3 separate regions of the Homo sapiens genome follow, and regions 1 and 3 are each linked to region 2. Evidence: fine-mapped expression QTL. A gene starts in region 2. Each other region holds a variant in brackets. All regions are shown on one strand. Distances are between the middles of the regions. Region 1 overlaps TCF12 (transcription factor 12). Region 2 holds the start of LINC00926 (long intergenic non-protein coding RNA 926). Region 3 has its middle 25 kb from the start of CGNL1.

Evidence for each region.
Region 1: its variant is fine-mapped to the expression of LINC00926 in monocytes after R848 (Quach 2016, PIP 0.95).
Region 3: its variant is fine-mapped to the expression of LINC00926 in putamen (GTEx, PIP 0.96).

What each region holds. Positions count from the first base shown.
Region 1 is chr15:57,262,760-57,270,759 of GRCh38, reverse strand. TCF12 (transcription factor 12) reads right to left here. Exons shown (of 21, transcript NM_207037.2): 18 at 7,486-7,648. Among named protein-coding and RNA genes, the nearest start is that of SNORD13D, 12 kb to the left of the region's middle. The variant ATAAATAAATAAT/T (reference allele first, on the strand shown) is at 4,662.
Region 2 is chr15:57,295,534-57,304,755 of GRCh38, reverse strand. It overlaps LINC00926 (long intergenic non-protein coding RNA 926), which reads right to left and starts at 4,391. Exons shown (of 3, transcript NR_024433.1): 1 at 3,832-4,391. RefSeq lists enhancers at 5,730-5,849, 6,332-6,381.
Region 3 is chr15:57,346,525-57,357,351 of GRCh38, reverse strand. No RefSeq gene overlaps it. Among named protein-coding and RNA genes, the nearest start is that of CGNL1, 25 kb to the left of the region's middle. RefSeq lists an enhancer at 1,140-1,861. The variant G/A (reference allele first, on the strand shown) is at 5,339.

The sequences.
Region 1 (8,000 bases), 33 kb after region 2:
GGACATCCACACCAAAATCCCATTCGTAGGTCACCAACATCAAAGACCAAAGGTAGATAAAACCACAAAGCTGGGGAGAAACCAGAGCAGAAAGGCTGAAAATACCAAAAGCCAGAACGCCTCTTCTCCTCCAAAGGAACACAACTCCTCATCAACAAGGGAACAAAACTGGATGGAGAATGAGTTTGATGAGTTGACAGAAGTAGGCTTCAGGAGGTCGGTAATAAGAAAGCTGTTCTCCAAGCTAAAGAAGCATGTTCTAACCCACTGCGAGGAAGTAAAAAACCTTGGAAAAAGGTTAGACGAATGGCTAAATAGAATATCCAGCATAGAGAAGACCTTAAATGACCTGATGGAGCTGAAAACCACAATACGACAACTTCGTGAAGCATACACAAGCTTCAATAGCTGATGCGATCAAGCAGAGGAAAGGATATCAGTGATTGAAGATCAAATTAATGAAATAATGCGAGAAGACAAGCTTAGAGAAAAAAGAGTGAAAACAAATGAACAAAGCCTCCAAGAAATATGGGACTACATTAAAAGACCAAATCTACATTTGATTGGTGTACCTGAAAGTGATGGGGAGAATGGAACCAAGTTAGAAAACACTCTTCAGGATATTATCCAGGAGAACTTCCCCAACCTAGCAAGGCAGGTCAACATTCAAATTCAGGAAATACAGAGAACACCACAAAGATACTCCTCAAGATGAGCAACTCCAAGACACATAACTGTCAGATTCACCAAGGTTGAAATGAAGGAAAAAATGTTAAGGGCTGCCAGAAATAAAGGTTGGATTACCCACAAAGGGGAGCCCATCAGACTAACAGTGGATCTCTCTGCAGAAACCCTACAAGCCAGAAGAGAGTCGGGGCCAATATTTCAACATTCTTAAAGAAAAGAATTTTCAACCCAGAATTTCATATCCAGCCAAACTAAGTTTCATAAATGAAGGAGAAATAAAATCCTTTACAGACAAGCAAATGCTGAGAGATTTCGTCACCACTAGGCCTGCCTTACAAGAGCTCATGAAGGAAGCGCTAAACATGGTAAGCAACAACCGGTACCAGCCACTGCAAAAACATGCCAAATTGTAAAGACCATCGATGCTATGAAGAAACTGCATCAATTAATGGGTGAAATAACCAGTAGCATCATAATGACAGGATCAATTTCACACATAACAATATTAACCTTAAATGTAAATGAGCTAAGTGCCCCAATTAAAAGACAGAGACTGACAAATTGGATAAAGAGTGAAGACCCATCAGTGTGCTGTATTCAGGAGACCCACTTCATGCGCAAAGATACACATAGGCTCAAAATAAAGGGATGGAGGAAGATCTACCAAACAAATGGAAAGCCAAAAAAAAAAAAAAAAAAAAAAAAAAAAAAAGCAGGGGTTGTGCGGTTGCAATCCTGGTCTCTGATAAAACAGACTTTCAACCAACAAAGATCAAAAGAGACAAAGAAGGCCATTACATAATGGTAAAGGGATCAATGCAACAAGAAGACCTAACTATCCCAAATATATACACACCCAATACACGAGCACCCAGATTCATAAAGCAAGTTCTTACAGACCTACAAAAAGACTTAGACTCCCATACAATAATAATGGGAGACTTTAACACCCCACTGTCAATATTAGACAGATCAACGAGACAGAAAATTAACAAGGATATCCAGGACTTGAACTCAGCTCTGGACCAAGCGGACTTAACAGTCATCTACAGAACTCTCCACCCCAAATCAACAGAATATACACTCTTCTCAGCACCACACTGCACTTATTATTCTAAAATTGACCACATAATTGGAAGCAAAACACTCCTCAGCAAATGTAAAATAACACAAATCACAACAAAACGTCTCTCAGACCACAGTGAAATCAAATTAGAACTTCTCAGGAAAAAAAAAAAAGAAGTAAACAGTGGTTAATTCTGAATAGTGGTGTTTCTTGTGATTTTTGTGCATACTTTTCTGTATTTTCTACATTTCTGTAATGAAAATAGACTACATAATCAGAAAAAAAAACATATGAGGGAGATGCTCTGTAACAGCTTATAGAAAGTTCTATTTATGATTCAGATATAAATTACTGACCACAGCTTCTCAGAACCTTGAAATAATGTACAAAAATATTAGACATTTTTACCTCTTCTTTAATACCCTGAGTATTCTAATAAAAGAACAAGTACACAGGCCAGGCATGGTGGCTCGTGCTTGTAACCTAAGTGGTTTGGGAAGCTGAGGCGGGCATGGGAGAATTGCCTGAGTCCAGCAGCTTGAGGTTATTGTCCACTGCACTCCAGCCTGGGTGACAAACAGAGACTCTGTCCCTAAAAAGTATGCAATATTTAACCTGCTAATCATTAAGAATCATATAAATGCATTCTTTTGACAAAAGAAAATCACTGGTTCTTTGACTTCAAAAAGTCCTTTAAAGATCATCGAGCCCAGTGGTGTCCACAGATAGCCACTCATTAGAATCTCCAAGAGCACTTGAAAAATACAGCTTTCCAGGTCTCACTACCAGAGATGCTAGACTCACTAATTTAGTGAGTTTGGGTTGGGGCCCAGGCACCTGTATTTCTAAAATGTTCCAGGGTCTGGGCAGCAGGGTTGAGAACCACTTCAAGACCTAGGATCACAGAGCTAACTGGTGGCAGTATGATGATGAGATGTCAGCTCAGTGCTCCATGGAAGCAAGCCTACACCATACACTTAAAATTACCACCATAACACTACCACTGTAACAGTAGATATAGTATCTTTATTGAGTGCTTACTGTGTGCTAGACCGTGTGCAAAGGGTTTTACATGCATCATTTTCAGGTTATTCCTACAAGAATCCTGTAACAGAAAGTCTCCTTTTAGAGAAGAAGAAACTGAGCTCAAAGACTTGCCCAAAGTCACTCGGCAAGTATGTAATGGAACCACAATTCAAACCCTTATTTTGTCCAAAGGTCATGTTATTAACCTATTCATTATTATGGACTATTACTAACCTATTACACTGCCTCCTAATTTCTGATGACCTATAATATGGGTCAGCAAACTGATCTATGAGCTGGTCATCCTTTTTTGTAAGTAAAATTTTATTGGAACAGCGATACCCATTTGACTTTGGCTACTTTTGTCCTCTAATGGCAGTGGTAAGTAGCTGTGACAGAGACTGTATGTCCAGTAAAGCCTAATAATAGTCACTATTTGGGACTTTACAGAGAAAGTTTGCTGATTCCTGATCTATAAGAAGATGAATATGGAGGAAAGATGTAAATTGTTTCCCTTAAAATTCTATTTGAATAAAAACTATGTAAGAGTTAAGATGCCTCCAAAGAGTGGTCTCTGAATTCCTTGACACAGTTTTTTCCTTCCTTATGCCCCTGATAGTTGAGTACAATACATATTAAAGTAATAATATTAAGATCTTAAGATTTCCTTTTTCCCAAGATAAATGTTTAGGTGTTGAAAACAGTGAGAATGTCAAAAGAGCAAAAGGACACCTTTTAAGTTGTGAATGACAGAAAGGAACATTCTGCTTCTTTTAGTTTTATCTACCATCCTCATTGCACCATAATTCAACACAAAGAACAATGTTTTAAATCTGTATAAGATATATACACATATCATTGATAAATGAATATGTATGCCAAGAAATAGGGTGTACCACAAATATACTAAATGATCTAACTTTTAAATTTTCATTAGAAAAAAGTCTTTTTTTAGAGACAGCATCTCTCTGTTAGCCAGGCTAGAATGCAGTGGCATGATCATGGCTCACTATAGCCTCAAACTTCTGAACTCAAGCAATCTTCCTGCCTTACCCTCCCAAGTAGCTGGGACTACGGGTGTTTGCCACCATGCCCCGCTAATTTTTTGTAGAGACAGAATCTAGCTATGTAGCCCAGGCTGGTCTTGAACTTCTGGCCTCAAGAGATCCTCCTGCCTTAGCCACCCAAAGTGCTGGGATTACAGGCATGAGCCACTGTGCCTGGCCTAACTCATCTAATTTTAATGTAGAACTGGAAGAAAAATTTGAAGGAAAAATCCAGAAATCACTTGAAACTAATGTACTATGTGTCTATATTCATACTTCAAAGCAAAGTCAAGTCCATTTTCTAGAAAACTCCACGACAACATCATTCTGCCTAGAATATTTCCTTTTTCATACTTTTCTCAAATTACTATTTAATTGTTTGTTAAAAAGAAACATTTTTTCTGAAGGACCAGATGGTAAATATTTTCAGCTCTGATGGGCCATATAGTCTCTGTGGCAACTATTCTAGTCTGGCAATGCAGTATGAAAACAACCACAGACAATGGATAAATGAATGTGGCATGGTGATGTTCTAATAAAACATAAAAATAGGCAGCAGCCAGGCGCAGTGGCTCACGCCTGTAATCCCAGCACTTTGGGAGGATGAGGTGAGCAGATCACTTGAGGCCAGGAGTTTAAAACCAGCCTGGAAAACATGGTGAAACCTTGTCTCTATTAAAAATACAAAAATTAGCCAGGCATGGTGGCATCTGCCTGTAATCCCAGCTACTTGGGAGGCTGAGGCTGCAGTGAGCCAAGATCACCCCATGGCATTCCAGCCTGGGTGACAGCGAGACCCTGTCTTTAAATAAATAAATAAATAAATAAATAAATAA[ATAAATAAATAAT/T]AAAAACAAAAACAAAAATAGGCAGTGAGCTGGGTAGGCCCATGGGCCATAATTTGCTTGTTTAAATCAGAGTCTTACCATATATTTAGCCCTTATATTAATATACAGTTATGAGCCCATAACATTTCAGTCAATGAGGGACTACATACATGACAGTGGTCTTATTATACTGGAGCTAAAAAATGTCTATTATATAGTAATGTAGCTGTGGTAAGGCTGCAGCACAACACATTAGTCACGTTAACTCTTTGTTTGTTATAAACAAACCTACTGTGCTGCCAGTTGTATAAAAGCATGCAATTAAGTACAGTACACACTACAGTAAGTCCTCAATGTCATTGATCAGTTCTTGGAAACTGCAACTTTAAGGAAAATGACACATAATAAAACCAGTTTTATCATAGGTTAATTGATATAAATAAGAGTTAAGTCCCTACAGTACATTTCTGGTGACAAAATATCATCAAACTTCTAAATAAAAACCAAAATACACTTCTAATATTAAACAATGAAATAAATGTGAACTATGCATACATTTAAGAAAGACTCATAAAAATAAGTAAGATTATTATTTACCCAATTATTCCAGTTCAGGGTCGGGGGAGGCTGCAGCCTATCCCAGCAGCTCAGGGAGCAAGGTAGAAACAATCCTGGACGGGATGCCATTTCATTGCAGGGCACACTCACACATACACCCACACTCTCTCATACTGGGACAATTCAGACACATTACTCAACCTAATACGCACATTTTTGGGGTGAAGGAAGAAACCGGAGTACTTAGAGAAAACCCACATGAGGAGACATGGGAAGAATGTGCAAACTCCACAAACAAAGAGGCTCTAGCTAGGAATCAATTTTTTTTCTCATCATTTCACAAAATGATGTTCTTTGAGGACCTGCTGTACTTGATAATAATAATAACTAATTATGTTATTGGTTTATGTATTTATACTATACTATACTATACTATACTATACTATACTATACTATACTATACTATACTATACTATACTATTTATCATTAGAGTATACTTCTAACTTAAAAAAAAAAGTTGGCCGGGTGTGGTGGCTCACGCTTGTAATCCCAGCACTTTGGAAGGCCGAGGTGGGCAGATCACTGGAGGTCAGGAGTTCGAGACCAGCCTGGCCAACATGGCGAAATCCCATCTCTACTAACAATACAAAAATTCGCCGGGCATGGTGGCAGGCACCTGTAGTCCCAGCTACTCTGGAGGCTGAGGCAAGAGAACTGCTTGAACCCGGGAGGCAGAGGTTGCAATGAGCCAAGATTGTGCCACTGCACCCCAGCCTGGGCGACAAGACCTCAAGGCAGGTCCTTTAGGAGGTATTCCAGAAGAAGGCTTTGTTACCTTAGGAGAGACAGCTTCCTGCATGTTACTGCCTGTGAAGACATTCAGTGGGACAAGATGTGGAGGTGGAAGACAGTGATATTAATGATCTTGACCTTGTGTAGGCCTAGGCTAACATGTGTGTTTGTGTCTTAGTTTTTAACAAAAAAGTTTGAAAAGTAAACAAACAAACAAAAAACCACAAAATTTTAAAAATAGGAAAAAGCTTACAAAGGCCGGGTGCGGTGGCTCATGCCTGTAATCCCAGCATTTTGGGAGGATGAGGTGGGCAGATCACTTGAGGTCAGGAGTTCCAGACCTGCCTGGCCAACATGGTGAAACCCCGTCTCCACTAAAACTACAAAAATTAGCCTGGAGTGGTGGGGGGTGCCTGTAATCCCAGCTACTTGGGAGGCTGAGGCAGGAGAATCACTTGAACCTGGGAGGCGGAGGTTGCAGTGAGCCGAGATGATGCCACTGCATTCCAGCCTGGGCGAGAGAGTAAGACTCCACCTCAAAAAAAAAAAAAAAAAAAAAAAGCTTACAAAAGAACTTAAAGAAAATATATTTTTGTATAGCTATATAATGTGTTTGTGTTTTAAGCTATTATTACAAGAGTCAGAAAGTTAAAAATAATTTAAGTTTATAAAGTAAATGACATACAGTAAGCTAAGGTTAATTTACTATTGAAGAAAAATATTTTTTAATAAATGAAATATAGCCTAAATGTACAGTGTCTGTAAAGTCTACAATAGTGTACAGAAATGTCCTAGGCCTTCACATTCACTCACCACCTGCTCATTGAATCACCCAGAGCAATTTCGAGTCCTGCAAGCTCTATTCATGATAAGTGGCCTATACGGGTACCATTTTTTATCTTTTATTTTTACTGTGCCTTTTAGGTGTTTAGATACACAAATTCTTACCATTGTGTTACAATTGCCTACAGCACTCAGTTCAGTAACATGGTATACAGGTATACAGCCTAGGAACAACAGGCTAGGTTTGTGAAAGTATACTGTATGTTTGCACAATGATGAAATTGCCTAGCAATGCATTTCTTAGAATATATACCATTGTTAAGTGACACCTGACCATATTCAAATATTTATTGATCAAATCTATCTAAATGTCCGTACCACATGATTTAACTTCTTTTAGCTATTTTACCTTCTACTTATCTAACAGACTAAGCAACTTGAGTGAAGAGATATAATTATATTTTATATATAGTCCCTCAAATGGTATAGTATGAAGGAAAACATAATTTTGAAATCAAACCTTCATATACTTCTCTTTTATAGAGATGATGTGGTGATTAAATGAGACAACATACACAAAAATCCTAACACAATATCTAGAACATAGCTGACAGTTAATAAATGCATGACACCCAGCTTCTCAAGTATGTTTACCTATGGAAAATGAATAAAATTTAAAACCTGGATGCTAACAAATACCTTGTTCTGCCTCTAGATGAAACCTTGATATCTTTTTGGGAGGATTCATCATCTGACTTCATGTCATCTGATGAAGGAGGTTCATGAAGGTTTTCATCCTTTTCTTTGTTTTCAGTCTTGATTTCTGTTGTAACAACAGTTCCAGACTGACTTTGCAAGCCACCTAACAAAGAGGCAAAGGAAAGATAAAATAAAAGACGAGACTCATATATGAATTACAGCTAAGACAATAAAAAGCTTTCTAGCTGGTGAATATCCTTAGCAGTTACAGGGTTATGATGGAGGTTTGAAGATGTAGGAAAGTATACTATTTAGAGCTGAAAAGAATATATCCACATCCTTGTGCTTTTTAACAGCATTTGTATTTAGAAGAACAAGTCTGACCCCCATGACCAATTTAATGCTCACTTTCAGGCACTATTTAACAAATGAACAAGGATGAGAAACTATGTATTTTAGAAACTAACTTCTAAGATGTTGCAGAGGTAAAGGACATAAGCTTAACATCTTCCTGG
Region 2 (9,222 bases):
GAGATCAAGGTTAACATCAGCAGCGATAAGTCCCATTGGTACCATGTACCTCTCGAATAATGTGATGAGAAGGACATTTCACCTCTGTGTGGCACCCAGAAGCATAACCCCAGTCTCATGGCAAAACACCAGACACACCCAAATTGAGGGACATTCTACAGAATCCCTCCCTGTACTCTAATGTCAGAAGTCAGGCTGGGCGTGGTGGCCTGCGCCTGTAATCCTAGCACTTTGGGAGGCCGAGGCAGGCAGATCACCTGAAGTCAGGAGTTTGAGACCAGCCTGGCTAACATGGTGAAACCCCATCTCTACTAAAAATACAAATTAGCCAGGCGTGGTGGTGTGCGCCTGTAATCCCAGCTGCTTGGGAGGCTGAGGCAGGAGAATCATTTGAACCCGGGAGGTGGAGATTGTAGTGAGCCAGGATGGGGCCACTGCACTCCAGCCTAGGCAACAGAGTGAGACTCAGTCTCACACAATAAATAAATAAATAAATGTCAAAAGTCATGAGAAAATGAGGAAAGATTGAGAAATGATCACAGACTGGACACATCCAAAAATGCAACCTGGTATCCTGCATTGGATCCCGGAAATTGGAAAGGACGAGAGTGTAAAGAACGGTGAAATCTAAAAAAAGTCTGTAGGTTAGTTAACAGTAACATACCAATGTAAATTTCTTAGTTTTAATGAGTGAATCATACTCACCTTCAGAGGGGAACTTGCCTCCTCTAGACCCCAGTGTTGGCAGGAAGGGCACAGAGCTCCCTGGGACAGCACCCCTTTTTCCAGGGAATCAACCAGCCATGGTTTTTGCTGAGCACCCCTACAGTCTCTCTGGGCAAGGTGTAGTGATACATACTAGGCAGGAGATGGGAAGAATTTGGCGTCGAAAGATTCTCCCATCTCATCTACAGCCTTTTTCGTCACTATTGAAAATGATTTTAAACTTCGAAAAATAAATCTAATTTATTTAGTTAGTATAAATAATCTAATGTATTTAGTTAGTCCAAATAATGAAATCCTTATTCAATGATTGAGGAAACTTTATGGCCCCAATCCACATCCACCTCTACCAACTAAAAAGTGTGGTTTCTGCTTCTCAGTAGCAATGAGGTCTAAGCCAGCATTTCATCCGAGCTTAGGTTCCTAACCTGCGTTTGGCGTGGGAAGAATTCAGTGGCAGGTTAGAATGCCAGGAGACGGGAGAGCCACAGGCAGGGGTAGAGAGGGGACAGTCAGGACTGGGACACCGCAGCAAGTTCCCTGAGAAGGGAATGAACCTTCCTCCTCATTGCTCCAGAAAGGAACATGGAGGAGCCTGGAAAGGTGGGACTTCTGGCTCCGGGGTAAGCGGGATCAGATATTAGACAATCTTACTTTGATTGGATTATTTTCCCATTCCTAAACCAATCGCTGCAGCTGTGGGGATGAGGCACTGCATAGCTTAGATGTGGAGGGTGTATTCTGGGGCCAAGGAGCAGGATCAGAACACACAAACCATGAAGACAGAGGTGGGTCCTGGAGGGATTGCTGCCAGAAGTTGGGTGGATAGATACGGGGCAGGCACAAAGCAACCACAGGAGACAAACTGCCAAGATGAACCTGTCTCGTTGGGTCCAAATACCTGCTCTTCCTGGATCCATGCATGCACCAACGCTAGGACAATCAGAGGGACAATTCGTTGTGCAATGTAAACAGACAAAGAGTCTTTTCGCATAGTGACACCCAGAGGATGTGCTTACAGGAGGCTCAGCTTGGTTGTGTACAGGGTCTCATTGTCTTTCAGATGCTCCCTCTGCAGGATCTGAGGGCCCCTTCCCTGTGCCCATCCAGAATAATTGGCAAATCCCTGGTCTGGCAAGAAAAGGTAGGACTCAGCAGAGGAAAAGGAGTTGGAGAAAAGAGGGTGCCATGAAGGAGGGGTGGGGGATGAGGCAGCCATCCATGGAAGCAGCCCTGCAAGCTACGTGCCAAGGACACCAGGCATTGTGGAACAGGGTATAGGGCCGACTCAACACACTCACCACCGCCCTGCCCCAGGCAACCTGTATGGGCCGAAAGAGATGACTTAAACTAGGAGTAAAGTACCAAACTGTACATTCTTTTTACAGCCAGCCCTCTGTATTCATGGATCATAATATTCAGATAAAAAAATGAATGATAGCATTTGTACTGAAGTTGTACAGCCTTTTTTTCTTGTCATTATTCCCTAAGCAATACAGCGTAGCAACTACTTACATAGCATTTACATTGCATTAGGTATTATAAGTAATCTAGTGATGATTTAAAGTATATGGGAAGATGTGTGTAGGTTATGTGCAAATACCATACCATTTTATATCAAGGACTTGAGCATCCATGGGTTTTGGTGTTCACAGGGCTGGGGGTGGCAGTGTCTGGGATCAATCTGCCATGAATAGCAAGGGACAGCTGTACTCCGTGTGTGCTTGGCTGGCTAACACAGGAATATAATTTAGCAAAGAACTCTCTTCTCCACCAGAGAAGACTCACACCCATGAAGAATGAAGATTGAAGATTTGAAGATTTTTCTTGTAGTATAGTAACTTTGTGTTAACCTATTTCCCATCTCCCATTACACTGTGATTTCCTTGGGGTAGCCTGTTATCAGCCAATGCCATGTGGGGCAGAAGAACTGCCCATCTGAGCCCTGCCTGAATTCCTGAACCATAAAATCATATTAAAAATGATTTGTAATTGAATAATTGATTGAATGAGGGAATGGACATTAAACTGAGGATTACCTGGAAAATCTGATTTATTATCTGATTTCTACCAATGGGACCCAGGGTCAATGGCTGGAGGAAGCTTTTAACATCCTACCAATTCAAAGGGACTCCTGTCTTGGTGAGAGCCTCCAAATGGGTTGATTGAGAATTCAGTGCAACTTAGCAAGTATAAGAATCCACGTACAGTGGAGGGGTCCCTGCTCTAAAACTCCCACCACATTGGGCCCGCAGTCCCCCAGACCAATATTTGTGATTGCAAAACCACTGCTCCTATTATTAGCATGACTGGCTCTGTCACCACAGTCAGGTCCTCCCTGACTTGGGCCCTCTCTGGGTTAACTTCTCCCTCCTTAGGTCCCAGCATCCTGTGTCCTCACCCTGGAGAGCATATGCTACAATACCTTAAAATTTCTCACCACCTTCTTGGCCTCTACTGCTGGTCTGAGTGGTGGCCATCTTCAGATCTCCTTTGGCACCCAGTACCCCACATGTTTTAGGGATGAGGGAGAAGAAGCAGGGGGTGCCAGAGCTCAGCTTCAGCTCTTCCTGGCAGGGAACTGGAGCTCGAGACTGAAATGTATTTTGTTACTTTATTTATTCAGAGATGGAGTCTCGCTCTCTCACCCAGGCTGGAGTGCAATGGCGCAATCTTGGCTCACTGCAACCTCTGCCTCTGAGGCTCAAGCGATTCTCCTCCCTCACCCTCCTGAGTAGGTGGGATTACAGGGGCCTGCCACCATGCCCAGCTACAATTTTTTTTTTTGTTTTATTTTCTAGGGGAGATGGGGTTTCACCACGTTGGCCAGGCTGGTTTCAAACTCGTGACCTCAAGTAATCCGCCTGCCTTAGCCGCCCAAAGTGCTGGGATTGCAGGCATGAGCAGCCGAGTCTGGCCTATTTTGTTACTTTAACTTATTATGAAAGTTTCCTAATGCACATGAAAGTAGGTGAGAATCAAAATTAAACTTTCATGTATCTTCGTCTAGTTTCACTAATTATCAACATTCTGACATTCTCACTTTGTCTACCATGTACTTTTGGCTAGAATATTTAAAAAATAAATGACCAGTATCATATGACTTACCCGTAAACACTTCAAAATATGAGCTTGAGATGTAGAATCACTGATTTTGGGGTTAAATGAACCTCAAAAGTCCTCCTGTGTTCAAATGGGCCTGGGCTTGGAAGCTCTGCAGTGGGTGCCCGGCTCTTGGAGACCCCGGCCACAGCGGGAGGGGGATACAACGTGGATGCTGGAATCAGCTCTCTGCCTGGATCCTGGGAAAACGCCCCCTGGAGTGATTGGCTTAGTTCTTCTTGGGCCCATCACAGTTCATCCAAGTAATCCACTTGCTTCCTGTTCTCCAACTCCTCTGTCACGTGCAGCCATTTCATCTTCACACCACACCCTTGTGATTTAGGGAGTATCATCTCCATCACGCCTGTAATCCCAGCACTTTGGAAGGCCAAGGAGGGCAGATCACGAGGTCAGGAGTTTGAGACCAGCCTGACCAACATGGTGAAACCTCGTCCCTACTAAAAATACAAAAATTAGCTGGGAGTGGTGGCGGGCGCCTGTAATCCCAGCTACTCAGGAGGCTGAGGCAGGAGAATTGCTTGAACCCAGGAGGCGGAGGTTGCAATGAGCCGAGATCACGCCACTGCACTCCAGCCTGGGTGACAGAGCGAGACTCTGTCTCAAAAAAAAAAAAAAAAATTTCCCCCACCCCTTATTATTTGCATATTACAAGCAAACCAGTTTATGCTCGGAGAGGCTAAGTGACTTGCCCAGGGTTACCCAGGTAGTGGAGGGAGAAGCAGAATTCCCACCCAGCTCTGCTGAACTCCGATGCCCTAGCTTGCCTGGTGGCACCCACAACCGGCCCTCAGTGTCCACTTCTGAGTTTAGCCTGGGCAAGAGACTGGTCCATAAACGACTTCCTGCCCAGTGGTAAACAGTGGAAGGCAGGCTCCTGTGTTTCTCGTGGTTGGTGGTAATCGCTGCTTTTGCAAAGTGGCTTTTGGGGAGGAGAGGTTTTAGGAAGTGTGTTAAATGAGGGGGGAAGTGTTACTTGGGGGTTTCCCAGCACTCAACACGCACACTGCAGGGGCTGCCCTCCCCCGCAGCACACTGGGAGAGCCTGTCCTCCAGCGCTGCCCACGCCCGGCCGTGGGTCTCATTCCCCACTGGATCTCCTGTCTTTGATGTCAAATATACCCAATTCATCTCTTTCATATCACTACAAAGGAGCCTCCTAATTACTCTGTTTAGACAGCCTCTTCTCCAAATATTAAACATTTGGTCTTCCCAGGCCCCCCAAGCATTTAATATCATCAAGGTTGTTGCGAAATCCACTTTTCCCCCAACTGGTGGGCAGATTCCTTTCTCTCTCCATTCCCAGCCTCCCTGGGCAGATCTGGACAAGTCACCCCACATATTCTTTTCCCAAGCAGGCTGCCCTTGGGACACAGCCCTTTTCTTCTGGTGAGAGGGTCGGAGCAGTGGGGTGGACCTTGAGCGTTTTCTTGAATCTCAGCCCTGTTGGGAAGCCCTGGAGAAGCCTTGGGGAGACCCAAGGACTCAGGGGTGACCTGTCATGCCTGACGCAGGTATGTGGGGCATCTCCACCTTTGGTGGTGGCAGGCCCAGCACCAAGTCCAGAACGTTTGCTGGCTGGTGGGGAAACAGAGACTTCCTGGTTCCAGATCAGAAACTGCCTTGAGTAGCTGCATCTCTCCAGACACCAGATGCTCGGTACCTGAGGCTCCCATAGCCTCTCCTCCTTCAAAAGAAAGAAAGAAAAAAAAAAGCACTCTAATCCTGGAACCCGTCCCCATCCCGAACCTCCACGGCCTTGCCACCGCTTCCTTAGGTAGAGAAGTCGGCTCACATTTCTTCCTACTCAACAGCTGCTAGTGTTCGCCCTTCTAATGCCTCCCTCCTGGTCCCATGGGCCTTTGCCAGCTGATGTCATGGCACAGTGCTATGTCATAGGTCTGTGCTATGCTCCCTGTTCTGCTCTCTCTTCATGGTGTGGCTGGTCCCCAGAAGGACTCTGTGGCTTGGGACTGCTCCCCAGACATCCCTCCTGTCTCCTCATGGGCCTTGTTGCTCTGGCTGAGCAGAAAACAGCCTCCCCATTCCCCCGGCCCCACACCAACGCGGGGGTCAAGGAAGGTTTCCAAAGGGACATTTGAGCAGAATCTTTTCCTTCTCTCCTTCCCTTTCTCCTTTCCCTGCCTTCCCATCTCCCTTCCTTCTTTCTTTCAACTTTTTATTACGAAAAACTTCATTTTCAAAAGTAAAGTGTATAATGAACCCCCATTTACCTATCTCACCCAGCATCAATGCTGATAGACCGGGCCAATCTTGTTTCCTCAAAACCCCCTAACCCCACTACCCACCCTCCAACAATGGATGGTATTGAAGCGGATTCCAGACAGCGATTGTATCATTCTCTCTGTAAACACTTCAGTGTGTATCTCTAACAGACAAGGACTTTTAGAGAAACATAACCACAGTATCACATCTAAAAATATAAACAGTAGTCCAGTCAGTGTTCGAATTGTTTCATAACTGCACTTTTTAAAGTGGCTTGTTTGGATCAGGATGCTGAGCAGACAGACTTGAAGGGATTGAAGGGTGACACATTTTGGTGTGGGTGTGGGCTGGTGGTGGTGATGGGGAAGCACATTCTCACAATTCTTGGACACTTGATTGGCCTACTGCAGACAGCAGGGATTCCCTTTTTTTTTTTTTTTTTAGACGGAGTCTTGCTCTGTTGCCCAGGCTGGAGTGCAGCGGCATGATCTCAGCTCACTGCAACCTCCGCCTCCTGGGTTCAAGCGATTCTCCTGCCTCAGCCTCCTGAGTAGCTGGGATTACAGGCAGGCACCACCATGCCTGGCTAATTTTTGTATTTTTAGTAGAGACAGGGTTTCATCATGTTGATCAGGCTGGTCTCGAACTCCTGACCTTGTGATCCGCCTGCCTTGGGCTCCCGAAGTGCTGGGATTACAGGCGTGAGCCACTGGCCAGGACTCCCAATTTTTATTAACCTCTACTGAACTCATTTTCACAAATCATTGCTCAGTTGTTTCCCTGGCCAATTGAGACTCAGGGGTATGTCACTTCCTCCAGGCAGCCTTCCCTGCATCCTGGCCCCCAGTCAGCCCGGGCAGGTGTTCTTGTTCTATAACTGAGTTCACTGTCTTTCCCAGGTGACACTGTTTGTAGCTCCCTATAATAAGTCTTCCTCAGGGGCAGCATGTGCGAGACACAGTCGGGTCTATTAGACATGTGCTACTGAATAAAGAGGAGGTCAGCCCTCATCCATTTCTGATTTGCTGCCCTGTGGGTTTGCTTTCTTTAGGTGGGTTAGGAAGTGCCTCCTATGTGCCATGCATCTCTGAATTCTTCAGTTAATTCTCACAACCGTCATGTAAGCTGATACGATCATTAATTATCCCCATTTCACTGAAGAGAAACCGAAGCTCAGCATGGGTAAGTTGATTGGCCAAACCTCACAGTTGCCACATTGAAGGTCCCTCCTATCTCCTATTGCCCTACCCACCACCAGGGAAGAGCCATTTGAGCTGCTGGTCCTGGCTGGAACATTCTAGAAAATGCCCACAACAGAACATGATGGCTCCTGCCTCTCAGCTGCAGGAAGTGGTTCCTTTCACTATTTCTGCTCAAGTCTCAGGGCCACTACACCCTCCCCATCCAACCTTTCTTCCCCAGCCTATTGGAGCTGAACTCTCCCCTGCTTGCATCCTCAGCCTCTGGTGGCTAAGCAAGCCTAGAGCAGGTACTTCAAAGCCTCCTGCTTAATTGTGCCTTCCCTGCCCATCATTAGGCAGAGAGTAAAGCAAACAAATTAAATGCACATTTTCTTCTGAAACCCTTGCAGGATGGCACTGGCACCGTCCTCGGTGTTGTTTGTGCTGACGGGCTGGCTGCCCAGCTTTGGAATGGGCAGGAAGCACTCTGGTGCTGGGACATGCTTACCTGTTTCTTCCTCCTCCACCCCTGGACAGAAGGTCGGTGGTTCCTGGAGAAGAATAGTTCCTTTGTGTTTTCTTTCCTTTCTTCCTGTGCCTAATTAGGAATTATGCTTGGGAATCAAGCTAATTAATCTCTGCCAGTTCAGGGTGAGATCAAGCTGCTCGCACTATCAGTGTTGATCAATAACTCACTGCTGAAAGAATTTGAAAAACAACCCCGCTCCTTTCAGCACAGGCTTTAATGAGGAAGAGGTGGGATGGCCCCAGGGGGAGACCTGGAGCAGGTAGGCAGAGGATCGTCTGGTGAAGCTACTACCCATTGCCTTCTGCATGTGAGAGGGCCCCCCGCAGGCAGGGCTTTCTAACGCCCAGGCCCAAGCCAGGGGTGGGAGCTTCATTATTGTGCTGCCTTGTTGTGTAACCCAACTTGTCTTGAACTGCTGAGGTTGGTCACTGGGAATACTCATAAGATGGTGGAAAACATGGCCAATGGCTGGGTTGTATTTCAGGACAAGGTGACCCCTCTGGCTTACTGATCAGAGGCCAGCCAGAAGCCTGCTCCCAACACTAGGCTGCCACCTCAGCCCAGCGACGACCAAATATCCAGGAGAAAAGATGCAATCTTGCAGGAAATAGAGCTGCAGAAGGCCCGGAGAATGAGAGAAAGCAAAAAAGCCCATAGGGCTGCAAGGGACAGGGGAAGGAAGGACCTCACCCTGGGAGTAGGAAAAAGGTGGTCTGGTTAGAGTTTGTACAAAATTTGTGCTGTGTCTTGGGGTCCTCATGGCCTAGGCAGGTATCTTAGTGTGTATTCTGATGCTATGACAGAATACCTGAGACTGAGTAATTAAAAAAGAATAACAGAAATTTATTTCTTATAATTCTAGAGGCTGGAAAGTGCAAGACGGAGGGGCTGGCATCTGTTGAGGGCCCTTGTGCTACATCATCCGTGGTGGAAGGCGGCAGGGCAAAACAGCCTGGGAGGAGAGCCCTCATGACCTCTTATTAGGCAACCCCCCTCAACACTGTTGCATGGGGGATTACGTTTCCAACATATTCGAACTGTGGCAGAAGGTTAGATCTTCAGAGATATAGAGATGGCCCTTGCCTTTAGAGGGAAAGATGCAGTTGTTTTTCTTCCAAGGAGACTATCAAGAAGCCAGAGAACCAAAAACAGTGATAACTGAAAAAGAACTCTAGGACTGAAGGAACTTAGGATGGTTTTTAAAATTTTGGAAGTCCCAGCCTATGTTGTATCAAATAGATTTAAAAGTTTTTTTTTTGTTGTTGTTTTTTATTTTTTGAGACTGAGTCTCACTCTGTAGGCCAGGCTGGAGTGCAGTCTTGCTCTGTGGACCAGGTTCACTGCAACCTCTGCCTCTGGAGTCCAGGTGATTCTCATGTCTCAGCCTCCCAAGTAGCTGGCATTACAGGTGCACGCTGCTATACCCAGCTAATTTTTGTATTT
Region 3 (10,827 bases), 52 kb before region 2:
TTAGAGAAAATGAAATGTTCTTAAGAAAATCATAAAAAAGAGAAAATATATTTACTGTTCATTAAGTAGAAGGTGGTCATCCTAAAGGTCTTCATCCTCATCGTCTTTACACTGAGTAGGCTGAGGAGGAGAAAGAAGAGGGGTTGGTCTTGCTACCTCGAGGGTGGCAGAAGTGAAAGACAATCCTTGGATAAGTGCACCCTTGAAGTTTAAGCTTGTGTTGTTGAAGGGTCAGCTGTACCTATTTTTTCAGCTTTAGTATACACAGAAAGTAGTTGCAGAATTCCTAACCTCCACCCCCCGCCCATGAGAAGTGTATTAACCATACAGTATTTGTGTATCAAGTCAAAACCCTATTTTCCCTGGGTACTCAGGTTGGTTCTTTTCTTCCCTACCCCCTTCAGTGTGGTTATGTTATTCATCTGTATTATGGTTGGGTTCTTTTGTTTTTTTTTATTTCTAAGAGACAGGGACTCACTCTGTCATTGAGGCTGGAATGTATGGAATGTAGTGGCATGATCTCAGCTCATTGCAGCCTCAATCTCCTAGGCTTAAGTGATCCTCTCGCCTCAGTCCCTGAGTAGCTAGGACTGCAGGCATGCGCCACCATGCCTGGCTAATTTTGTATTTTTTGTAGAGACGGGATTTTGCTATGTTCCCCAGGCTGGTCTCAAACTCCTGGGCTCAGGCAATCTGCCCACCTCGGCCTCCCAAAGTGCTAGGATTACCTGTGTGAGCCACCATGCCCAGCCTGGTTGGGTTTATTTGTAATTGGGTTCCATTTGGGGCTCCCAAACATCTTAATTTTTTAAAATTTACATTCAGTAAAATTCACTCTCTGTAGTTTGCAGTTCTATGAGTTTTGACAATGTAGAGTCATGTATCTACACCACAGTCATGCAACAGAACAGCTGCATCAGCCCCCAAAATCCCTCATACAGCTTAATCAACCCCCCCACACCTCCTATTTTTGGCAACCACTGATCTGGTTTTTGTCCTTATAGTTTTGCCTTTTCCAGAATGTCATATAAGTGGATTTGAGTATGTAGACTTTGGGGTCTGGCTTCTCTCACTTAGCAGAATACATCCATTGTACTCTACAGGTCACAATCCACTGTTATTATTTCTCTTATTGCTCAGATTCCCTAGGTTTGGCTGTTTTGAGCCCTTTCAAGCTGGCTCCTGTGATCTTCTGACATGTTCTCACCATTTTTCTAGCATTTCCTTACTTCCAGGCACCATAAGCTGGTTCAGGATCATCTTACACTTTCCCTTTCCCAGCCCTGGAGTCCTCACCCCATTTTTCCAAGGAGTGGTGGAGACCTTGAGAATCCCCCTCCAGTGGGCGAAACAGCCCACTCCAGAGAAGGCATGGAGAGAAACTCACTTATCCACTGGAGAGTACAAGAGAGGAGAGAGAGGAAATAGCTCGTCTCATCAGAAGATGGCCAGGTATAGGGATTAAATGCAGATGGGTGGTTAATATGTAATTCAAGCTGATGGTGGCGCATATCAGTGCTGACACCATTAAGCATCTATAGCTTCTGTGATTCCCAGCAAGATTTCCAAACAGCATTGGGCATAAAAGGCTAGTCAAGGTTTCCAAATACCATGCCAAGCCTAGGATGCCCCCTTCCATCTTGATATGTAGTCTCATTGCCTTTATACCAACTGTCCCCCCACCTCCCTGCCATTAATAGCCACAAGAGTGAAGCTACATTCATGGACTGAACCCCCACCAAGTCGGTCAATTACCTCAGTTGAGAACCCTCTTGATTTCTCCCTAAAAATTGTGTTTAAAACTTGTTTTTAAAATATTTTTTGACACCCCTTTGCTAAAGCAGTTTGTGTCAGGGGCAGCTGTGACAGTCACCTGGGGTTGCTACGGGAACGGTGTCCATGGATTGCAAGCGACACCTGGCTAGCGGTGGGCAGCTGGCGAGCTACATGGAAGGAGGGCTGTTTTTCCTTTGAAAGTAGAACATTTCTTCCTTCAGGTTGTGAACAGTTAGCCACGGGGCGTGGGATTTTACTTAGGAAAGAGAGGCTGCTGTGGGACTGGGCACCCACTTGCCATGGCAGCTGGGAAGGGAGAGGAGTCAGCAAAAACTGGCTGGGACTAACGCTCCGAGGACGCACTGGCTCAAGCTGCCCTTTACCAGCTGAGGCCAATGACTGTGGGTGAGGCAGGGAAACCAAGGGGAGCCCGGGGGTGAAGGATTGCAGTGGGGGTCAGGGAAACTGCAGGTACCACACTGGGTGCCTCGGTTCCTGTTAGAGCTCCCTCCCTGCCCAGGGCCAACACCAGAGACCAGATCCCTGACCTGAACTACAGTCCCACTGCTGTACCCAGATGCCCTTGCAGTCATTCATAGTCACTTTGGGTGAGTTGCATTTGTCAGTCGGACTGATCCCCATGTATTCCTGCATTCCAGGCATAATGCAGAAGCCACTGCTCCCAAGAGCCTGCCCCACTGGTTTGCATGAGACTCACGTGCCTGGGTCATTATAATAAGCCCCACTAAGATGGGACTCAGGTCAATGAGGACAGAGCATCTTCTAGTATAACAAGTAAGGGTTTATTGATGTTGGCCTTTAGATACTAAAAAATAATTGTTTTTGTAAATAGCAAAGGCAAAGGCAAGAGTAGCCAGTGTTAGCTAAGGCAGTGGAGTGGTTCTCAACCCGCGCTGCACATCAGCGTCACCTGGGGAACTGTTTCAGCCCAGTGATTCTGTGGCTCTAGAGTGCAGCCTGGCTTGGATTTTTAAATACTCCCCTCGAGTGATTCTTAGTGGGTGGCCAAAATAGAGAACTCCTGCTCTAAAGTAGAATAACCTCTAAGCTAAAGAAAATTTGGACCCCATGAGTATAACAGATACTATCATACCTTGGAGATAGCATGCCATAATGTGGTTCAGTTCATTATTAGACGAAAGTTTCCTCGAAGCTGAATCTGCATTTACACACATTATATCACCCTCTGGAAACAGAAGTAAGAGTCAGGAAAGCAGATTTCCCCATAAGTACTTCTTATACTTCCAGTGTAGCTCACCCGTTAGATAGAAACACAAGGCTTCATTTTCTCTTTGCATTGATTTGATGATTGTCCCTGGTCATTGAATAGGGGACCTTAGGGGCCACACACTGCTATGAGGAAAAGCAGCATTCACAGTCAAAGCTCTGGTGAGACCAGCATTACAGGCCCTGGGGATGTCCCAGCGTCTGACCCTGAGCAAAACTGTGTAGCAGTTTTGCTCCCACACTTCATGGCTGAGAATAAGGAGGAGAGGTTTCCTACGGTTGGAGGTTCTGGGCAGCAACGTCTACCATGACCTCCGCAGTGAACCTGTAGGCAGGGAGCCCCAGAGACAGGGTGAGAGCAGAGTCAGTGAGGGCCTGGGGTGCTAATTAATGACCTTAGCATTGGAGAATGATGGTATTAGACTAAGAATGAGACCAGTCAGAGAGAGGAGAGTCAGGAGATCTGGCGGTGGCTCCAGTGGTAACACATCTGAGAGTCACTTCAAAAGTCACCCACCCTTGAGGTCATCAACTGCCTTAAGAGACATGGGAACATAGTCACTGAAAGTGAAGGGACCCACCTATGGTCACACAGCCAGATAGGGGCCTGGAGAGAGCAGATGTCTGCGGCTTCATCTCAGTCAGTCCTGTTCATTCTGAAAATGCTTCCGAGCACCGGGCATAGAGCCAGCTTGTGCTCCACACTGGGGACGTAGTGGAGAACCCCGTCTTCAAGGGTTCAGCTCACACACCCTGCACTGCTTTCCCATGCCTGCTGTAACCAATTACCACAAAGCTACTGGCTTAAAACAGCACACATTTATTATCTTACAGCTCCGTAGTCCAGGAGTCCAACACGAGGCTCACTGGGGCCAAAATCAAAGTGTCAGCAGGGGTGCATTCCTTTCTGGAAGCTCCTGGGAGAGCCAATTTCCTTCCCTCCTGAGGCCCCCACACTCCTACCACACGGCCCCCTTCCTCCATCTTAAAGGCCAGCAACGCTGGGCGGGTCCTTCTCACAAAGCAACACTCTGCGCTCCTCTGCTGCCTCCTCTTCCACTATTAAGGACCTTGATGATGATATTGGCCCCACCTGGATAATCCAGGCTCATTTCCCTGTATTAAAGTCAGCTGATTAGCAACCTTCATTCCATCTGTTAATTCAATCCCCTTGGCCGTGTAACAACACACTTACAGGTTGCAGGGATGGGGGCCTAGACATCCTTGGGGACCATTATTGTGCCTACCACACTTCCTGTGAGACTTCATGACCACCGGGTTGTGGTGGGAGAAAGGCTGGGAATCCAAAAGCTCAGCAGAGCTGAACTAGGTGTCGCAAGAAGAAAACTCCCCCCAGGCGATCATCCCAGGATGGAACCTTTCTGCAGTAAACACAGCAGCTGGAGAAAGGCGGTCTAGACATCAAGGATTTGTGTGCGCCAGCCTCACCTGATCACGCACAGACTGTGTTTGCCGGAAAGTGGAAATGTTATGCGCGGTCTGGGAGACCAAGTTCTCTCCCAGGGCCAGAGGCATAGTGTCTGGAATGAGCCAGAAGTTTAAAAGCTAACCTGTTATGAAATCAGCCAAGAGCAGAAAGCGCAAAGCTTCCTGGTCCTGCCCCGACCCCACGCCCGCTTGCATAACTCTAGGCAAGCAACTGAGAGCGTTTAGAGACCCCAGAGGACCTCCCAGTTCCAGCCAGCAGGAGGACGGTCACAGAAACTCAAACCCAAGAGGATGTATTTGGACTGGAAATAGTCTCCCAACTGGTCACCCTATCTTTAGCTTCCTCTTCACCTCCCTGCTGCCCCAGCAATCTTTCCAACAGGCCAAGCAGAGCACACTCATCCAGCTGAAGCCCTGCGGTGACTTCGTGGACCCTTCACAATAAAATCCTCTCTCCACAGAGAGTCGGGCAAGGCCCCTTGCAACCTTGGCCTTGCCCTTTGTGTCCACAGCTCGGTTTCATGAAAACACAACCATCTTTACATCCTCCAGGCCTCTAGAATGAACTCCCCTTCCTTCTCTTTCTGGAAAACTCTAAGTCACTATTCAAGACCACATACCACTTCCCCAGGATTCCCACTAGAGCTATGTGGTCGCTTTGCTCTCTGTTCCCAGCCGGGATTCTCCTGCTGTGCTGAGCACCTGGAGGGCAGGAGAACTGTTGTTTCATATATGTCCCAGGGACCTACTGAGCCTGGCTCAGTGGACGCTGTAGAAACATTTGTCACATTAAGAAGGATTATAAGAGGTTGGCACGCTCTGCTTTTCCAGTTCTCTTGGAATTAGGAATTTGGAAATGGAATCC[G/A]AATCAGTTTTACTAATGTCTGAAATCGGACTAAGTCCGCCCCTAAAAGAAAAACTACGTTGGCAGGTCTGATAGATGGATGGCATTCATGGCCACAACTAGTGACCTTCTGTATCCACACCCTTGGCAATGTGAGTTTGCAATGCCTCATTAAAAGGTAGAGCATATTTTCTCCCCCCGCTTGTATCTTGGCTGGCCTGCTTTGGCCAACAGAATATAGCGGAACTGGCAATGTGTCCTTTAAGTCCAGGCCTCATGAGGCCTTTACTGCTTCTGCTCTTCTCGTAGGACCCCTGTCTCCACTGAGAGAACAAGCCTGGACTAACCTGCCAGAGGAAGAGAACAGGCACGGGTCAGTCTGTGGAGCAGAGCCAACTCTTCCTACCTGAGGCCATGCTAGACAGGCCAGCCCCCAACCCAACTGCCAGGGACCACTGAACAAGCCCACCTGGATTCAGCCAGCCTGGGCCCAAATCACCAAAACCACCCAGCCACCATGTAGACATGTGCCATAATAAATGGTTGTTGCTTTCAGCTACTAGATTGGGACGAGTTTCGTTACACAGCGTAATAGATAACAGATTAGGACAGCTGATGGCTGAGAAGCAAATGAGAAATGAGTGCTTGACTATTCTACGAGTGGAAAGGAGGGAGTTTATTGTTTTCGTTATTAAAGTTTTATTCTAAGGAAAATGTCCCTTCCTCCTTTGATCTATATACACTATCGATGCTTTTATTTTCTTTCTTTTCTTTCTTTTTTTTTTATTGAGACAGAGTTTCACTCTTGTCTCCCAGGCTGGAGTGCAGTGGCACGATCTCAGCTCACTATAACATCCGCCTCCCGGGTTCAAGTGATTCTCTCGCCTCAGTCTCCCAAGTAGCTGGAATTACAGGCACTTGCCACCATACCCGGCTAATTTTTGTATTTTTAGTAGAGATGGGATTTCTCCATGTTGGCCAGGCTGGTCTTGAACTCCTGACATCAGGTGATCCATCTGCCTTGGCCTCCCAAAGTGCTGTGATTACAGGTACGAGCCACCGCACCCGGCCTATGATTGCTTTTCATTTGCTTCTTCCTGGAGTTCACTTGGGATCGAGAAGCAGCAATGGACTCCAACATAGTCTTTTCCTGAGTGGAAATAATTAATTCAGTGCTTCCTGAAATAAGGAAGCCATTGGAGACCTGTTTTTTGAACCTACCTAATGAGTCTTGTATCTGTGTTCTGGATGCTGGCTTAGAAAGAGGCTGGGCACGGTGGCTCACGCCTGTAATCCCAGCACTTTGGGAGGCCAAGGTGGGTGGATCATGAGGTCAAGATATTGAGACCATCCTGGCCAACATGGTGAAACCCTGTATCTACTAAAATACAAAAAATTGGCTGGGTGTGGTGGCTGGTTCCTGTAGTCCCAGCTACTCAGGAGGCTGAGGCAGGAGAATTGCTTGAACCCGGAAGGTGGAGGTTGCAGTGAGCCAAGATCGTGCCACTGCACTCCATCCTGGTGATAGAGCGAGACTCCGTCTAAAAAAAAAAAAAAAAAAACAAAGAAAGAAGTTATGGGCCTGGTGGAAAAGATCAGTTGAAGAAGGGTTTATATGGGACATCAAAAATAAGAACAAAGATAAGACCCAACCTGATTCTGAAATTTTGACAGAGGTGGAGGTGAGATGTCAGGCTAGGGAGGCAAGGCCCTGGAATCTGAAGTGTGGTGTGGTGATGGTCATCTTACAGGATCCTGAAGACCTGAGGACCTTATGATCAAGTCAGCACATCCAGAACACATTTACGTCTGTCCCAGCTGGTTTGGGCTTGCTCTAACATTTCCGCATAACTCACTGGGCCTGATTCAAGGATAATTTGTAAAGTTCAGAATTTTTCTTAGCAAAGTTGAGTAAGAAGGACAGAGGGGTTGTTACTGTCACTGAAATGTATCCACCACTCCAAGCCCAGCTCAAATCCCACTGCTTCCCTAGCCACCTAACTGGAAGATGCTCCCTTCCTCCTCTGAATTCCACAAGCAACTCCTGAGGATTGCAGGGCACATATCTTGACTGGCTTGACATGTAACTTAATGTTATCCAACTGCTAGCCTTTGCAAGGGCCCTACCTACTTCAGGTGCAAATGCGCAGCCTTTAAACTGGGCAAATAAACTTTTGATGGGGATCTTGGGAACCCAACCACCACTTATAATGTTGCTTCCGTGAGAAATGTGTTCTCTGTTCTCAGAGAAAGGCTGGGAAATGACCTTTGGTTGGGGCACCAGGCATCTCCAAGATTTGTCAGCTTTGAGCATGGGAGAAGCACATCCCCCTGGAGGACTTTTTAATTTTACTTAAGAAACACATTCACATATATTTCGCATGATTTATGTGTCACTCCAGTTCAGTTTAAACTCCTTTAATTATATTCTTCTCCAACCTCTGATCCAGAGGTAACCTCTCCCTTCCCTAACCCGCAGCATGCTCTCAGTCAAGAAGGCTTTTTCGGCCAGGCGCAGTGGCTCACCCTTGTAATCCCAGCACTTTGGGAGGCCGAGGCGGGCAGATCACAAGGTCAGGAGATCGAGACCATCCTGGCCAACATGGTGAAACCCTATCTCTACTAAAAATACAAAAATTAGCTGGGCGTGGTGGTGTGCACCTGTAGTCCCAGCTACTAGGGAGGCTGAGGCAGAAGAATTGCTTGAATCCAGCAGGCAGAGGTTATAGTGAGCCAAGATCGCGCCACTGCACTCCAGCCTGCCAATAGAGCGAGACTCTGTCTCAAAAAAAAAAAAAAAAAAAAAAAAAAGAAGGCTTTTTTTCCCTGACCTTTCTCAAACACCTCAGCTGTTTGCTTCTTGTGTTGCTCTGCTGTCGGAAGGACCATAGTTTGGAATCACTGTTCCACAAAGTTTGGTGACCATATGTGATCATCCATTCTTCGTGTCTTGAGCCACAGGAGACAAATTTGTGCCTCCAGAAACAGTTGTGAGGTCAGGCCCAAGAGGGCACAGCCATGGAGAGCACTCCCTCATGGGAGGGGCCAACAGGATGGCTGGGGAGGGTGCCGTGAGGCAGATGGCAGATTAGCAATGCAGGCCTGTGGGGCAATAGCTGATGGACATTAGGCCTGACACCCCATCTCAGACTACTACTTTGCCCATGATTTCTCTCTTCCAATTCTTCTCTTCTTGTTTATTTTCCAATAAGAAGTAAATATGGAGCTATGGAAAATTTCAAACATATACAAAAGTAGATAGAACATACAAAAAATCCATATACCTGTGACCCAGCTTCAATTGTCTACTTACAGCAAATGTCATTTTTTTCTATTTCTCCACCCATTTCCCTTCATCATGATTATTTGGAAATCAATTCCAAGCATCAGATCATTTTTTTCTTTATTTCAGTAATTCTAAAAGATAAGGACTGTGGTTTTTTTAAAGAAAACACAATAAAAATAAATTAACAATAATGTTTCAGTATTATCAAATATCCAGCTAGTGTTCAAATCTCCAAATTTGTCAAAAGCCAAAATTATTTTTTTAACGGATTATTGGACTCCAGATCAAAGAAGGTCCACATACAGCAATTGGTTGGTGTATCTCTGAAGTCTCTTTGAATCCATAGGTTTTCCCCTTGGTTTTTTTGGTTTTCTTTTACTTTGGAATCTGTTAAAGTAACTGGGTGGTTTGTAGAATGGAATTCCCTGCAGTTTGGACTGCATCCCCATGGTGTCATTTAGCCCATTGCTGTGCCTCTGTCCTTCCTGTACATTTGTACTGGAGCTAGGGGCCTGACTACAGTCAGGTTCACTTTTTAGGCCAGTCTCCCTAGGTGGGTCTGTTCCTCAACAAGAGTCACAGCATGTTCCCGTGTCTCTGTTTACCATGTTAGTGGTGGTTGCTGCTTACTGCCTAGATCCTTAACTCATAGGAGCTGCCCTTGGTTTTTTGTGTTTAAAGGTAAAATGTAATGCATACACTATAAAATTCACCATTGTAAAGTATACAGTTCAGTGGTTTTCAAAGTATATTCACAAGGTTGTACAACCATCATTACCATCTAACTCCAGAACATTTTCATCACCCTCAAAAGAAACTCTGTTGGCATCATGCCTTAACCTCCCCTCTTCCCAGGCCCTGGCAACCACTAATCTACTTTCTGTCTCTATAGATTTTCCTATTCTGAAATTTTCATATAAAAGGAATCATTTGTGGTCTTTCGTGGCTGGCTCCTTTCATTTAGTATAGTGTCTTCAAGATTCACTGATGTGGTAGCATGAATCAGTACCTCATCTGTTTTTATTGCCAAATAATAGTCAATTGTGTGGATTGACCACAGTTGGTTTATCCATCCATCAGCAATGGTCATTTGGGTTGTTTCTGCTTCTGGCTACTGTGAATAACACTGCTATGAACTTTTGTGTACAAGTGCTTGTGTGGATGTGTGTCATCATTTCTCTCGGGCACAGCCCCTGGCGTGGAACTTCTGGTTCATATGGCAGCTCTATGCTTAATGTTTTGAGGAAGTGTCAGGCTGCATTCCACAGCGGCTGCCCCATTTTCTATTCCTACCAGCACTGTAAGTGGGTCCCGATTTCTCCACATCTGTGCCAACACTTGTTATTGTTGTCATTTTGATTACAGTCCTCCTGGTGGTACCCATGGTTTTTGAATCATTGCCTACCCAAGCTCAAGCTGCGCACGCACAAGAGTATAGCTCAAATACACAGTATTTTCAAGGCAGGTAGCTCTGGCCTCCACCTGCTACTAGAGAGGGAAAACTTACACACACACTGTCACCTCTCACACACACTTTCACACTCACACACACACACACACAAACACACTCATACAAGCACGGTCCCTACCCTGTTGGTGCTGCAGGGAATCAAAGCTGAGTAAGGCACAATCCCTGCCCTTGAGGAGCTCGAGGTCAGTCCAGGAGACATGGCCTGGAGTTTCCGCTGGCAGGAACAGAGGCCTCTCCAGCAGCTCAGGTACAAGGGAAGGTTTGCTGTGAAGTCGCCCAGGGGGTCTCACAAGTGAGGACCTGATGGAAACCAGGCCGTCCTCAGGAGCAGGGTCTCTCTCTACCTTGTTTGTCCCCCTCACTCTCTTTCCTCTGCTGCCTAGCTTCCTCAGTTTTCCCCCAGCCCCTGCCCCCCACCCCAGATTCTGACTGACAAGTGACTGTGACTTGGCCTGGCCCTTGCCCCCCAGCACCAGCCGCCCTCAGCCAATGGTGCAGCCTCCATGTCTCAATTCCAGATTCTGCAGTAAGCACGGGTTTCCGCACCAGGCCCCAAAAGACCTTTGAGGGGTTCTGCTTGATCGGGGTCCCTTGGTTCGGTTAGCTGTGGCCAGGGAGAAGAGTAGGAGCCTGTAGAAGGAGGGAGAACCAGCCGGACGTGGTGGCTCACGCCTGTAATCCTAGCACTTTGGAAGGCTGAGGCGGGCGGATTGCCTGAGCTCAGGAGTTCAAAACGAGCCTGGGCAACACAGA